Regions from separate parts of the Homo sapiens genome. Here all the other regions are reported to be linked to region 1. The links are microRNA targets in miRTarBase. Many come from high-throughput screens and were not tested one by one. Region 1 holds a microRNA gene; each other region holds the end of a gene's coding sequence.
The links. Region 1 holds the annotated microRNA hsa-miR-29a-3p (UAGCACCAUCUGAAAUCGGUUA, at 1,814-1,835, opposite strand). A microRNA usually pairs through its seed, bases 2 to 8, with sites in the 3' UTR of a target mRNA and lowers its output. Matches are read on the target gene's strand: a 7mer-m8 pairs with bases 2 to 8, a 7mer-A1 pairs with bases 2 to 7 and ends in A, and an 8mer does both.

Region 1 (3,118 bases):
AAAAATTGCAACCTCAAGCATAAATGGATTAAATTGAGACAAGTTTAGAAGAGCAGGCTGAACTATTATACTTAGGAGCTACTAAAAATATAAAAAGCAAGATGTCTCAAAAAATATCCCAGGCCAGACCTCTGGTTTGAGGGAAATCAACACATAGGGATGTATTTGGAACCAGGGGAGTAAATAAGATTACTTAGGGAAAACAGCGAATAGGTAAGAAAGCAAAAGACAAGAGTTTTGGGAAAATAATAACCATGGGATAGAAAAAGATGTGGTGGAATGATCCTGATTCTCGTTGGATTTGTGTGGTAGACAGAATGTTTTGGCTACAAATTGCATGTGTTAGCCCCGAGGAGAAAAGGCCTTTTCCAGACAAGTGACAGGCAGGAGGGAAAAGGAGGGAGGCAGTGTGAGAGGGCGGGAAAGCTTAAGCAGGGTAGATAGAATATTAACTCTTGATTGTGAGGCCAGTGGCTTTTCCAGGCCAGAAAGAAAACAGAAGGACAAGGCCCAAATTCCACCAGGTGCCCCTGCAGTTCTCCAGGACGCCACATGGGGACAGCAGGTGGCCGGTCTGTGCAGTACCTGTGTTGGGAGCTGCACACAGGGGCCCCTGGAGGAGGAGCGGCCGAGATGGCTCATTCTTGAGCCTTTTATTTTATTTTATTATTTTTATATTTTATTATTATACTTTAAGTTCTAGCATACATGTGCTTATACCCAAAGGATTATAAATCATGCTGCTATAAAGAGCCTTTTATTTTTGCCTCTTAGTGGACCTAAAAACTCAGTATTGTTTTTGGTCTAATGACTTCACTTCTAGTGAGGTTGTGTTAGTCCGTTTTGCGCTGCTATAAAGACATACCCGAGACTGGGTAATTTATATAGTAAAGAGGTTTATTTGGCTTACAGTTTTGCAGCCGTACAAGCATGGCACTGGTACCTGCTCGGCTCCTGATGAGGCCTCAGGATGTTTTATACATGGTGGAAGGCGGAGAGGGAGCAGACATGTCACATGGCGAGAGAGGGAGCAAGAAAGAAAGAGCAAGAGAGAGGAAGGAGGTGCCAGCTTTTTTAAACAACCGGCTCCCTCTAACTGAGCAGGAACTCGTTAAGTGAGGACATCACCAAGCCATTCACAAGGGATCCGCCCCATCACTCAACCACCCCCACCAGGCCCCACCCCCAATACTGGGGATCACACTTCAACATGAGATTGGAGGGGACAAACATCCAAACCATATCAAAGGTATACTCTAGGATCCTAGTTCAAGTAGCACCTGCTTTTGTTGCTTTGCCTTCTAAACTGAACTGACACATATTAGCACAGTTCTGTCTCAGCCATAGAAACCCAGTTTCTCTGGACCATTTTTCCTTATGTAAGAAAATGACCTGTTTAACCATGGAGGGAACTCCTCAGCCAGCTAAGAGAGGAGAGTTCAGAGATAGCTGGTGCAGCTTCTCATCAACAACAGAATTGACTCCCTCGCTGCTCCTTTCCCATCATCTAAGCCAGTCATCGATTTTCCCCAGGAGTGTTTCTAGGTATCCGTCACCAAAACAAAACCCCCACCAAGTCTATGGAATTTCTATAAAGTATAACCATTCATGATATGCTAATAGTGAACCATTTGTTAGTATTATACCACATGCAATTCAGGTCAGTGAAATTCAACTTAGAAACTGGAAGAAGAAAAATCACCTTTGCATTATTGCTTTGCATTTGTTTTCTTAGTTCTTGTCCATGGCCCCAACGGTCACCAATACATTTCCTCTCAGCAGTCAGCATCATGGTGCTCTTCCCCAATCATTATAACCGATTTCAGATGGTGCTAGAAAATTATATTGACTCTGAACACCAAAAGAAATCAGTCATCCTCTAAGGGGTCACAGAAGGTCGTGAGGGTTGGGAGGGCCCAAATCTTACTAAATCCAGCATACATTGGGCTCTTTAACCCAGGCACAATGGAATGAGTCTGTACTATCTATTAAGTGCTATAGGTTTATTCCACAAAGAAGTATAAAATTCCAACAATGCGATATCCTGTACAATTACATTCATCCCTTGGTATCCTTGAGGGATTGGTTCCAGAAAGCCCCTTGGATACCAAAATCCACAGATGCTCAAGTCTCTGATAGAAAATGGTGTAGTATTTGCATACAACCTACACACATCCTCCCGTATACTTTAAATCGTCTCTAGATTACTTAGAATACTTAATGCAATGCAAATGTATGCAAATAATTGTTATGCAGTATTGTTAGAGAATAATGACAAGAAGAAAGTCTGTTCATGTTCAATACAGACACAACTTATTTTTGGAAAACTTTCGATCACAGTTGGATCCGCCAGTGCAGAGACCTGACTGCCATTTGTGATATATGCCACCACTGTTGGCAGGGGTGAGGAAGGGGTCAGCTACATGTGAGGCAGGTTCTCACAGCCATCCTGCTGTTGCTTTCAAATACTTCAGAGCTGTCCCATTCACTTCTTTTGCTGTTGGTAGTGCAGCGCAGCTGGTCTCCCCCAAGAACACTGATTTCAAATGGTGCTAGACAATCACTATTTAAATCTAAACCACCATATGAAACCAGCTTCCTGAAGAAGCTTTATGATCTATTTTTTTCTTCATAATGCTCTCTTACAATAAACCCAAGACAACCTAGAAAGGAAAAGTTGAAACCTAGCTGTGAGTTACTCAGTGGTCTAAACAGAGCTTTGGCAAATTTCATATATTCATAAACTGATGTCACTGAATTTGTTATTGATGGGAGAGCATGCCTGGGACTCCCTTATTCTTAAGTTAAGTTGCCCAGACAAAGGTTCAGCTTCATCATTTAGAGGCAAGGGCACATGTCAGCCCCGTCACTCTTGGGTGGGAAGACAAGGAAAATCCTTTGCTTGGGTAAAGGCAGGAGAAGTCAGAGGCATCCTGTGATCAAGTACCCAGGCAGGCGGAGGACGACTAGCAGTGGTGCTGGAGAACCGTCCGTCGGACATGCAAATAGGACAAAGCAAGCAAGTGCTCCATAGAAGTTGAAGAAAAACGCTTTCCTAAACCTATTATTTTCACTTGGAGATAACTTGGATCCAAAGGATTACTGAGATTTTGGGGTC
Region 2 (3,118 bases), not on the chromosome of region 1:
AATGTGTTTTTTTTTTTTTTAATTTTTCTGTTCAGCTTTTAAGATGAATGGCTTTCCACTTGAAACCTCTGTGTTGAAACCAACTGATAAATAGACTGGTATTCAAGTTACTACCCAACTGAGAGAACTTAACTGTTCTCTTGTCTGGTCAAGATTGAGGCAGTGTATCTAGTTGGCAATATCTGTTTTAGGAGTATTCCTAAATGCAAATATTTAGCTGAGTATTATTTGTTAAGATAATCTAGTGAACAGCAATGTTTAGGACCTATCTATAAGAGCCTGGGTCAAGATGAAGAGGCACAATATGGTTTGCTCTCTAAACGGACTTAAAAATCCCTGATACCTTTCCTCCTTTCCTAGTTATAGTCTGTTCATCCCTAAGTTAAGGGTAGCACAGAGGAAAACCTTTCTGACAGGAAAAAGGTAAAGCAGAAAAATCACTTTCATCAATCCAAACTGGTAACTGACATTTAGCATGGAATCAATTCCAAAACTCTCAACCTCTTCCAGCATGCAGACCAGCCCTCGGCCCTGGCACTAAGGTGGAGTTAAGGGGTAGGGCAGGGAGAGTTCTATGCAGCAACAGGTCTCTTTAAACCCTTCCTGGATTGCCCAAGGTACTGAATATTTGGGAGCACCATTATTTCTGTTTTCTACTGGTTCTTGGCTTGAAAATATACTCCTTATCCCCAATCCTTGCAGCCTTCTTATCTCTTAGCTGTGTGTGCTGGAAGAAAGGAGAAAGATGGACAGACATATCGTTCTGGCTGAAGCTGGAACACAGATATTAATCCTATATTGGCCTTGGGCCACAAAAAAGCCAGAAGTGAAAAGTGAAAAACAGTGAAGTGAGTTTCTTACGGAGAGGAGCGGAGCAGGGGCTGTGGGAAAGCATCGAAGAGTGTGTGATGTGGGGGTGGGGTGGGCAGTGGTGGGTAGTAGAATGGGGGCAAAACAGAGATGATTATTGCCCATTTTCTCCTAATCTGGAATGTGACTTAACAAGTTTAAACTGTTCTGCATTTTGTAAATATCACATCCTGAATATGAAGGACAAATACAACTGTACTATGTTGCATTAACATTTGTACTTTACCCATTCCAAATTAGGAGACTTGAAATCAATATGCAAATGATGCAAATTGACACTCCCCCATTTAATACAAAATTCTGTTAAACTGCAGGTTTATTTTAATGTTCCTTAACCATGACCTAAATATTATGTACTCACAATTTCTTCAGTCACTAGAGAAGGATTTAAAAACAAAAAAGGAAACAAGAAAGAAAAAGAAACAAAAACAAGCAACCAAAAAACCTTTAGGGCTCATTTTCCTTCCTTTCCAGATGTTCCCTTAGCCATTCAGAGGCCTCTTTCCATTAGAAATTTCTAGTGCTCAGACAGCAGTAATCCAAACAAGGGCTATATTTTCTAAAACAGGAAAAATGTCTTGTATTGTGTGTGTGTGTGTACATACACGTATGTGTAAAGTAAGATATAATAAGATGATGTCATCCTGTTCAGATGCCTGGGAGGTCAAAACAGGTTGAACAGAATGAACAAATGTGGCATTGGTGAGCTTTTCTACCTGCAACAGCAGCTGACTATCTAGCACTAGGTTAACAGGTTGGGAGAGAAGAGGAAAAGAGAAGCGACCTTGTTCTAGTGTCAAAACTGTTTTCCAAAGTTATTTACGTTCAATTTAACAGTTTCTGTGGTTTCACTCCCCTTGCTCAACAAGATGTAGCTCAAATCACCCAATCACTAACACTTTCCTGTTCATTTTATATGAGTATTTCAAAATTGTTAGTTACCACGAATGACTAAGTGCGGGGATAGGGTATTTTTGCTGGAATTGTTGCACTGCACAGCCTGTAACAACACAGGGGGTCCCAGAGAGGCACTCCCTTCACGGACTACATTCACTGTCTCAGGGCAGGGGGTGGGATTAGGGAACAGCAGGGATCCACAAATTCCAAGCAGATTGCTTGGCAACAGTACCAGTAACTAGTAACTAGTACAGTAGAAGCCAAGAACCAAGTCAGGGCTTTCAGAGTCTGAAACACTACCTGTGAAATGAATTCCTTACCAAAAATTTCAATTTAAGAAGATTCCACCTAAGGTAAAGGGACTGAGTAAAACCCTGAATCCAAGTCCTGCAAAGGCTGAATAATCTATGAATAACCTGCGGCCAGACTGTCCAGACAAAATCAGTGTGAATGGTCATTTCTTTAGACCATTCCTTCACTTTCCTTTTCCTAGCTTCCTAGGAAATGTCAGAAGGGAGACAGCTTCCTTTTACCATGCCGGCATTAAACTTTTCTCAGTCACAAGTAGTAGAACATTAATCTGAATTCAAAGTAATACATTATTACCTAAACACTTGGAAAAATAATGTTAAACAAAATGTGACATATTTACATGATTTTGTAAGTGCAAACTTGTCACAAATTCACAAAGTCTTGCTTGACTTAGACTTACTATACAAGGTGCTCTTCCTCTAAAATGTAAAAAATCTGTACTTTGTATTCCTGATTAAGTAACATTTGTCTCTGAAGACAACTGAAACCTACTTGTTTATTTCTGTGATTCCAAAAGGACGCAAAAAACCCAACTGGTCAACCCTTCCCTTCCCCCTCCTTTACAGTGTATCTCTTTCTAGTCTCATTACCGAACGACAAGGCAGGAGACGCACAGTTTGGAGGGGCCGATGCAATCATCATGGCAGAAAGCGCCACAGCCTTTGCACATGATCATGGCTTTCAAGCGGCAGTAACATTTCGAAGGCGTGCCCTCTATGCTGTTCTCTTCGGAGAACGCCTGAACAGGAATGGTCTGGCCATGGCTGCTGGGATTCATAGCTTGGCTAGCAGGGATGGTAGTGACAGTCACTGAAAATGACATGACATCACCTACATTGCTAGATACCTGGCTACCTGGTACAGCAGAGTTATGGTCCATGTCAGATGAGGTGGAGACATTGATCATGCCTCTATAGCTTGGCCCTATCTGGGTGGGGCTTCCATACAACTTCGGGGTTTGCAGGGGTGGAAGGAGTAGGGGCTGGTGGGTGGGGCTGTCTGCAGGCAGAGGAAGAACAGTAGAACTGAAAAGCTCGGG
Region 3 (3,118 bases), not on the chromosome of region 1:
CAAGACCAGAAGGGGCTGGAAGATTGCCTGCTTCACATTAAAACCCTCCTTATTGTATTGGTGCTGACACGACACAAGGATATGCAGTCTTTATCCAGTCCTTATTGCTCACAGAAAGATACCAGTCCTTACTGCTCACAGAAAGTAGTGAAGCCTCCCTTCACTCACAGAGCCCACACAGGTATGCCCTGGTTTATGTAATGAATGGGCTGCTACAAATAGGTGTGATGCATGCCTTTGTGAATCACTTTATATTTTGAAGACACATTAGAGGAGCTGGCTATTTCAAAGAAATTTCACAAGTGCCTCATTTCTTAATGTCACAAGCATTTCTGATTTATAATCATAACCCCTTTCTAATGTATTAGCTTATGAAGTTCCATTTTTTGCCTAAGAGGTTTAATCAAAGCAAGATAAAACTATGCTTAATAATATTCAGTTACCTGAAAGAGCTATTGCAGAAATGCCTAATATATTACCAGAAAGTAGCTTAATGTCTCAAATAAATGTCAAGTTGTCCAAATCAAACTGATAGGCAGCTTAATGAGGGATAAATGTCATAATTATCCATATTTCTCCACATTTTTTTTAGAAAAAAACATTCACACAATGAAGGGAATCAGAATCTGTTTTTATATCCCTAGAGTTATAAACATTTGTATCAAAATATTTACAATTATAGTATATGAAATAATCTATTAACGAAGAAGCCCAATACAGTACTAGAACAATCCACCAGAGTAATGCAAATTACATGAGACATAAATGTCACAGAAAAAAAGTAAAAGATAAGGGAATACATGGTTTACTCCAGTCATAGTTCAACTTCTTAACAAAATGTGAGTATTCCCTTTGGATATGTCTGAAATGTAAGTATGTTTTTTGCACTAAGACAGCCTTCTATAATCATGTGATAATGAAATCATAATGACAAAGTTCATCTTCCCACAGTTTTTGCTGGCCAATCTCTCTAACCTCAGCCTAGGTAATTTGGTGGCTTGCCCTCAACATTTCCTTAACTAGAATAAACATAGAGAAATAGAATTAGTAATAATCCTTTTACATAAATACCAAAAATCATGGCATAACAACTCCCCAAAAAGGAAAGGTATAAAAGAAATGGATGAGGAGAAAGCTAATAAAGAAAAGTAGGCAAGATGTCTCAGATTCTCCCTGGGGTAGATCTTCTCAGGGCGATAAAGAAAACGTCTTCCCAAAAAACCCCTTTAGACAGAATCTGAGATGGCTTAAAATAGCTGCTCCAGGGCAAAGCAATGCCTGCTTAACCAGGAATAACATACTACTTCTAAGTCCTGTATAGAGGTGCTCCTGCGGCAGCAGACAGCTCGTCTACCATCTGACTAGGTACCACAAGAGTTTTTGCTTTTTTATTTTAAAGAAAAGATCTGCCCATCACCTATATTTTTATTTATCTCATGGGATTTTCGTATTTTCCTGGGAATGCAGGCACTCTGTTCTTATCATGGCTGAAATACGGTAGGCTTAATACTTCACAATTATATAGCACCTTTCACCCAAGGGCCTGTTGTTTGGTTTTGGTTTATGTGTGTTTTAATCAGCTTCCAGAATTGCCATGCCTCACCTGTGAAGTGGGATAGGCAGGGTCCCCAAGAGGTGATCACTCCAGGTGGTGTCTAAGCCAGAGCTACCACTGAGCCTAGGAGCCCTGATCCTCAATATTGATAATTAGACAAAACTTCCTCAAAAATGTTAGAGGAAGAGTAATAGGATTGTGCTACAATGAGCCATGTCCATCTCTCTCCTGTTGTATACTTAAAAGAAACACTGACTGCATTGAGGGGAATCCTAAAAACATAACCCTAACATGGCACTGTTGCAAGACTGCCCCTTGGATCCCATAGTTTGTGTGGTACTTTTACCACCGAATTGTTCACTAGTGACTTTAGAGAAACTCCAGAAGAGCTGCCTTGGCTTTCAGCAAGAGGCCTAGCAAAGACCATGGCATGAGGTCTCCATGAGGGACAGCCGTGTGTGAGGTCTCGACTGGGCTCTGACCATCCCCCAGGTTTTCCATTGTGAAAAGGTCTCCTTCTTGGTTTAGCTAACCCACCAGCATGACCTTACAAACTCTCTTTCCTCCTCCCATTTTGTCACTGAATTCCACAGAGCTAAATATCTGTTCCAAAGAGGGACAATGGCTCACAGGCCAAAGCCCCCCAGTAGGCACTTCAGACTGGAATGTGATGTTTTGCTTTGGGTCAGAAGGGCAGGATGGCTTCCAGGCTTAGCGTATTCAGCACAAAGACAGTATCTGCTCTTGCCAGAACTTGTACCGCTATTTTAACTCAGTGCAGTAGGTCTGTGGACCTCAGTGCATGACCCAGAAGTGGGGCTGGTGTTGTGGCAGCTGATGGGGCCCCAGACAGTGTGTGTCACTAAGAACAGCTGGAGGCCAAGTCTGGTGGCTGCAGGGAGGCTCTCTGGACCCCATCAAGGGAGCATCAAAGTACTAGCCAACTACTTTCTCCCCAGGGCAGGGGCTTGGCAGTAGAGAATCCCCTCAGTAATGGTTTGGGATTTGACCTCCCCCCTTTGCTTCCCCCTCCCCCCTCCCCTATCTCGGTTTTTCCTGTACAGCAACCTCCACTTCCCTCCCAGATTCAACGGCTTCCTCCTCCCCACCCCCCAGATCCCCATGAACTCGTCCGGCCTTATTTCTTTCTCAGGACCAGATAGAGAACGCCGATGATGAAGCTGAAGCAGAAGCAGATCCAGCCCAGGATGTAGGAATAGCCGTGGTGATACTGCGTTCCATCACGATTCGCATAATGACTAGTGTAGATGGACACCCCCACAAGAATGCACAGCCCTGCAGGGGAAAAGGAGATTTGTCGGTGTGTTTTCTTACATTAAAGTCGAGAAAAAGTTTTACTAATTTTAAGAAGATCCTATTTCCCTCATTAGCAATAGGAAAATGAATTCTGCTTGTTTGTCCCTAAACAGGAGTTCTGATGGATGTCCCCTGGGCCAAGCTCGACGGTATGTTGATAAATTAGAGGTGTCTGGGCTCTCATGTCTGCACTGGTTTGTGTGGCCACGCTGTGATGTAAAACACAGAACCTCATGCCTACCACCC

Region 2: miRTarBase lists ASXL2 as a target of hsa-miR-29a-3p. Seed matches in the 3' UTR shown: 7mer-m8 at 634-640.
Region 3: miRTarBase lists EMP1 as a target of hsa-miR-29a-3p. Seed matches in the 3' UTR shown: 7mer-A1 at 1,523-1,529.

What each region holds. Positions count from the first base shown.
Region 1 is chr7:130,874,935-130,878,052 of GRCh38, forward strand. MIR29A (microRNA 29a) reads right to left here and starts at 1,876; the gene lies at 1,813-1,876. It overlaps MIR29B1 (microRNA 29b-1), which reads right to left and starts at 2,605; the gene lies at 2,525-2,605. It also overlaps a transcript of LINC-PINT not described here. RefSeq lists an enhancer at 336-630 and a silencer at 426-625.
Region 2 is chr2:25,739,364-25,742,481 of GRCh38, forward strand. ASXL2 (ASXL transcriptional regulator 2) reads right to left here. Exons shown (of 13, transcript NM_018263.6): 13 at 1-3,118. The coding sequence ends at 2,666. Among named protein-coding and RNA genes, the nearest start is that of DTNB, 67 kb to the left of the region's middle.
Region 3 is chr12:13,214,267-13,217,384 of GRCh38, reverse strand. It overlaps EMP1 (epithelial membrane protein 1), which reads right to left. Exons shown (of 5, transcript NM_001423.3): 5 at 1-2,851. The coding sequence ends at 2,694. Among named protein-coding and RNA genes, the nearest start is that of EMP1, 19 kb to the right of the region's middle.